Regions from separate parts of the Homo sapiens genome. Here region 1 is linked to region 2. Evidence: fine-mapped expression QTL. A gene starts in region 2. The other region holds a variant in brackets. All regions are shown on one strand. Distances are from middle to middle.

Region 1 (2,925 bases), 25 kb before region 2:
ACAGTGTAAAGAAGACCTTATATGACCTGGTGGAGCTGAAAACCATGACACAAAAACTACGTAAGCATGCACAAGCTTCAATAGCCGATTTGATCAAGTGGAAGAAAGGGTATCAGTGATTGAAGATCAAATTAATGAAATAAAGTAAGAGGAGAAGTTTAGAGAAAAAAGAGTAAAAAGAAAGGAACAAAGCCTCCAAGAAATATGAGACTATGTGAAAAGACCAAATCTACATTTAATTGGTGTACCCAAAAGTGACGGGGAGAATGGAACCAAGTTGGAAAACACTCTTCAGGATATTATCCAGGAGAACTTCCCCAACCTAGCAAGCCAGGCCAACATTCAAATTCAGGAAATACAGAGAACACCACAAAGATACTCCTTGAGAAGAGCAATCCCAAGACACATAATTGTCAGATTCACCAAGGTTGAAACGAAGGAAAAAATGTTAAGGGCAGCCAGAGAGAAAGGTTGGGTTACCCATAAAGGGAAGCCCATCAGACTAACAGTGGATCTCAGCAGAAACCCAATAAGCTAGAAGAGAGTGGGGGCCCATATTCAAAATTCTTACAGAAAACAATTTTCAACCCAGAATTTCAAATCCAGCCAAACTAAACTTCATAAGTGAAGGAGAAATAAAATCCTTTACAGACAAACAAATGCTGAGAGATTTTGTCACCACCAGGCCTGCCTTATTAGAGCACCTGAAGGAAGCACTAAACATGGAAAGGAACAACCAGTACCAGGCACCGCAAAAACATGACAAATTGTAAAGACCATCAAGGCTAGGAAGAAACTTCATCAACTAACGGGCAAAATAACCATCTAACATCATAATGACAGGATCAAATTCACACATTAACAATATTAACCTTAAATGTAAATGGGCTAAATTCCCCTGTTAAAACACACAGACTGGCAAATTGTATATAGAGTCAAGACCCATCAGTGTGCTCTATTCAGGAGACCCATCTCATGTGCAGAGACACATATTGGCTCAAAATAAGGGGATGGAGGAAGATCTACCAGACAAAAGGAAAGCAAAAAAAAAAAAAAAAAGCAGGGGTTGCAATCCTAGTCTCTGATGAAACAGACTTAAAACCAACAAAGATTAAAAGAGACAAAGAAGGCCATCGCATAGTGGCAAAGGGATCAGTTCAACAAGAAGAGCTAAGTATCCTAAATATATATGCACCCAATACAGGAGCACCCAGATTCATAAAGCAAGTCCTTAGAGACCTACAAAGAGACTTAGACTCCCACATAATAATAATGGGAGACTTTAACACCCAACTGTCAACATTAGACAGATCAACGAGACAGAAAGTTAACAAGGATATCCAGGAATTGAACTCAGCTCTGCGCCAAGCAGACCTAATAGACATCTACAGAACTCTCCACCCCAAATCAACAGAATATACATTTTTTTCAGCACCACACCACACCTATTCCAAAATTGACCACATAGTTGGAAGTAAAGCTCTCCTCAGCAAATGTAAAATAACAGAAATTATAACAAACTGTCTCTCAGACCACAGTGCAATCAAACTAGAACTCAGGGTTAAGAAACTCACTCAAAACCGCTCAACTACATGGAAACTGAACAACCTGCTCCTGAATGAATACTGGGTACAAAA[T/C]GAAATGAAGGCAGAAATAAAGATGTTCTTTGAAACCAATGAGAACAAAGACACAACATACCGGAATCTCTGGGACACATTCAAAGCAGTGATAAGTGTGATGAGCAGAAATAGGCTTCATTAGAGTAGAGTGACTATTAAAAATTATAACTTTCTAGGAGCTATAAATCAAAGCTTTAAAAAGATGTTTGGATATATTTGAGTATTCAGATCATGAAAATAGAAATTGCCCTGCCTACTGTAAGAAGAGACTGATGGGAAATTATACACCTGGTCAACTTAACCTTTAAACAGACAATGCTGTAAAAGCTAATGGTTTCTCTGATATTTATTTTAAGTTTTAGTACTGATCTCCTTTTCCAGTGCTGCACACTCCTGTGTTTGGAACTTTAACAGATTTGCAACAAAATCCTATATCCAGCTTCCTATAATTTAATTAAAGAAAAACACATCCAGATAAAGGCTTTGCTATGTTTTATTATTATTATACTTTAAGTTCTGGGGTATATGTGTAGAACATGGAGATTTGTTACATAGGTATTCATGTGTGAAATCTTTGTTATTAACAGAGCAGATAGCATCAGAAATCATGTGACTATTATGATTCTCAGAATATGTCTTAACTTTTAGGGCAAAGTTAACACTGAAAGCTCTAGCTTAAGTGTTGGCACCTTTGTGGGAAAAAAATCACTTTTGAAACTCAGACTTCAATAATTTAAAATTATTGAAGACAATAATTTAAAATTACGTGAAATGTTTTAAATTTGTGAACTCCTAATTACTGTCTTAATGATTCATTTTCTTGAGAGCGATAATTGTATAAAAAGCTATTGCAGCTTTATTTTCAATATGACATGCCTGTAAACCATGGAGTTTTCCCTGTTTGTAAATAGACATTGTAGATAATTGAATGTTTGATTTTAGAAAGGTCATTAGTTTCTTGTTACACATTTTGTTAGTCTGGTTTTTGTTGCTTATTGGGTTCTTGAAAATAGTTGATGCTGTGTTATGTATAACTTTTCTAATAAAAGTTGTGTTATAAGCTGTAAAAAAAATATTTTGGAGCAGAGGAAATGGAAACCACCTAGTAAGATGATAGATTTAGAACCATATATATGTCGAATTGTCACAAATGTAAATGGATTAAATTTTTAACCTAAAAGGTGATTGCCATATTGGATTTTTTAAAATTTAACTATATGCTACTTATTAAGAGCACATGTGGAATAAAAATGGTCAAAAATAGAAGATGGAAAAAAAAATTTTACAGCACTAACATAATGAAAGT
Region 2 (2,925 bases):
TAGTGTCCCTTAGCACAGCAGGATAACTGTAGTTAACTTTTTTTTTTTTTTGACATGGAGTCTCACTCTGTCACCCAGGCTGAAGCACAATGAGGCAATCTTGGCACCCTGCAACCTCCACCTCCTGGGTTCAAGTGATTCTCCTGCCTCAGCCTCCTGAGTGGCTAGGATTACAGGTGCATGCCACCATGCCCAGCTAAGTTTTGTCTTTTTATTAGAGACGGGATTTCACCATGTTGGCCAGGCTGGTCTCTAACTCCTGACCTCAAGTGATCCACCCACCTCAGCCTCCCAAAGTGCTGAGATTACAGGTGTGAGCCACTGAGCCTAACCCAACAATAATTTATTGCATATGTCAAAATAGCTAGAAGAGTAGATTTGGAATGTTCCAAACACAAAGACATGATAAATATTTGAGGTGATGGATAATGTAATTTTCCAGACTTTACCATTACGCATCATATTCTTGTGTCAAAATATGACATGGAGCCCATAAACATGCACAACTATTTTGTATCCATAAAAAATTTTAATAAAAATTTTTTTAAAACATTATTGATGGACATGCAAAGGGTTGAAGCTAAAGTCAAATTTTCATGCATTAAAAATGGGAAGCTTTTCTCTTACAAAAAAATTAGAAAAGCAAGTACAAAAAAACTTAGGGTAATTGGAAAGAGTACTGCTTCCTGGATTTCAAAATTAGTCAAAAGACTTTGAAGAGCAGACATCCAATAATCAGTTATTTCCCTGTTTACCTTCTATCATGTAAATCTTTTCTGTCTCCCTAAACTATCAATAAAATCTGGTACAAACCTCCCAAAAAATATTTGCTTTCTTATTCTTTCAAGTGCTTATGGCTCTGGCTCTGAAGAATTACTCTTTCTTTCAAATTCCTTTGAGTCTACTATATTGGTCCAATCACTAGCTCTTCAATCTGTTCTTTGGCTACTTCTTCTCTCCAGGTGATCTCATTTCACCATACACTTCCACTTTCCTCTGAAACTGAGGAAATACTCACCTGTACTTTGAGGTTGCTGCTCTTGCATCATTATGCAGGCTCCCTGTGTTGAGAAGGTCCAGGAACCTTTTGTACCTCTCTCCCTAAAGATGTTGCCCAGAGACTCAGCTTCATTTAAAGAAGCTAGAGCTCAGGGACAAACTGCTACACACTCTTATAGGACTAAGAGACTTCCAACATTAAGTGTACCTCAAAAGAAGAAGTCACAATTACAACTAAAGTTTCCAGTGATTTCGATACGTGGGGTTAAAAAAAACAAAAGAGGAATTGAGAAACATTGAAAACCATTCATGAGAACTTTGACAAGAATACTTAGATCATTTCTTCAGTTTCTAACATAAAATTTCTCTGTCTGATTCCTATTCATTCTGGCATGCAAAATAGAAAATTTTTTATCTCCTAAAAGACATCTATTTAGAGAACTTGGTTAAATTAAGTGCTCCCTAACTAACCTTTACATTGGCTGCTTATTTTATGCAAGCCTTAATCCATGTGTTGAACAGTGTCCTAGGTAGTAAGCAAAAGTTTGATTGGATGGATATGGTTTAGATATGAAGGGTAACATAGTAAATAACAAAACCCATGAACATTGTTAAGGAATGTGACTGCAAAATGAAACATTCTGAAATCAGTCTGCAAAGGTGATGAAACATTCTTACTGCATCCAGACTAATATTGGGCAGATGTCAGTGATATTTTGTAATCTCCCTGATTAGGCAAAAGGGAGCCTGAAGTGATATAAAATCAGAAACAGGCTTCATGAATTTTATATTGTAGCACAGAAAATATATGATGTTTTCTTGTCCTCATAGATTCTTAGTAGAGACACTGTCCTGAAAACAAAAGGCAGAGAAACAAGAGAAAAAGCAGCAGTTTATCAATGTGTGTTATACCCATCACTCAGGAGAGAACTCAGTTCAAATGTATTTATCTCTTTCATGGCAGTGGCTTACAGGCCTTGCTTAAATAGTATGTTAACAAACAGCCATAAATCTATGGAGTGCTGAGAACGAAAAAAAAAAAAAACTGTTATTTGAGGAATGTGAGTGCCTTGAAACTATCAAGTCCAGAGTGGACTCATGAGAGAGATATGACAGGAGTCATGCCTCACTGCCACCTTGCACGAAATTTACCTCTTGAAGCCATTTGCTATGTAGGTTCTAGACTAACTGAACCCTAAAATTTAACAGTATACAGCTAATTACTAATCAATGTGGTTTCTGTAAACCAATGATAATTTACTGATGAGTAACTTTTTAATTCACTCCCTCTCCTGATTCATTCTTTTTTTAATTTTTATTTTTCCATAAGTTATTGAGGTACAGGTGGTATTTGGTTACATGAGTAAGGTTTTTAGTGGTGATTTGTGAGATTTTTGTGCACCCATCACCCAAGCAGCATACCCTGCACCATATTTGTAATATTTTATCCCTCATCCCCCTCCCACTCTTCCCCCCAAGTCCCCAAAGTCCATTGTACCATTCTTATACATTTTGTGTCATCGTAGCTTAGCTCCCCATATCATTGAGAACATATGATGTTTGGTTTTCCATTCCTGAGTTACTTCACTTAGGATAATAGTCTCCAATCTCATCCAGGTCAGTGCAAGTGCTATTAATACATTGCTTCTTATGACTGAGTAGTGGTCCATTGTATATCTATACCACAGTTTCTTTATCCACTCATTGATTGATGAGCATTTGGGATGGTTCCATGATTTTTCAGATTCATTCTTTTTTCTTTAAAATCTTCAGTCTTTCCTTTGCTCTCTAGACCACTTCCCAAGGCAACCTACAAGTGTTTTCCTGGGTAGCTGTCCTCATCCTTTGCCCAAATAAACTCTCTATATTAATGTGGCTTCAGCTACTTCCTTTAGGATGATAGTGAAAAGACAAAGAAGAGAGTAT

What was found. PIP is the estimated chance that this variant, and not a neighbour inherited with it, causes the effect. A credible set is the group of variants that fine-mapping cannot tell apart.
Region 1: its variant is the best candidate, but not a certain one, in a credible set for the expression of CLEC6A in whole blood (TOPMed, PIP 0.83).

The regions. Positions count from the first base shown.
Region 1 is chr12:8,478,950-8,481,874 of GRCh38, reverse strand. No RefSeq gene overlaps it. Among named protein-coding and RNA genes, the nearest start is that of CLEC6A, 24 kb to the right of the region's middle. The variant T/C (reference allele first, on the strand shown) is at 1,638.
Region 2 is chr12:8,454,236-8,457,160 of GRCh38, reverse strand. It overlaps CLEC6A (C-type lectin domain containing 6A), which reads right to left and starts at 1,199. Exons shown (of 6, transcript NM_001007033.2): 1 at 1,019-1,199. The coding sequence starts at 1,049.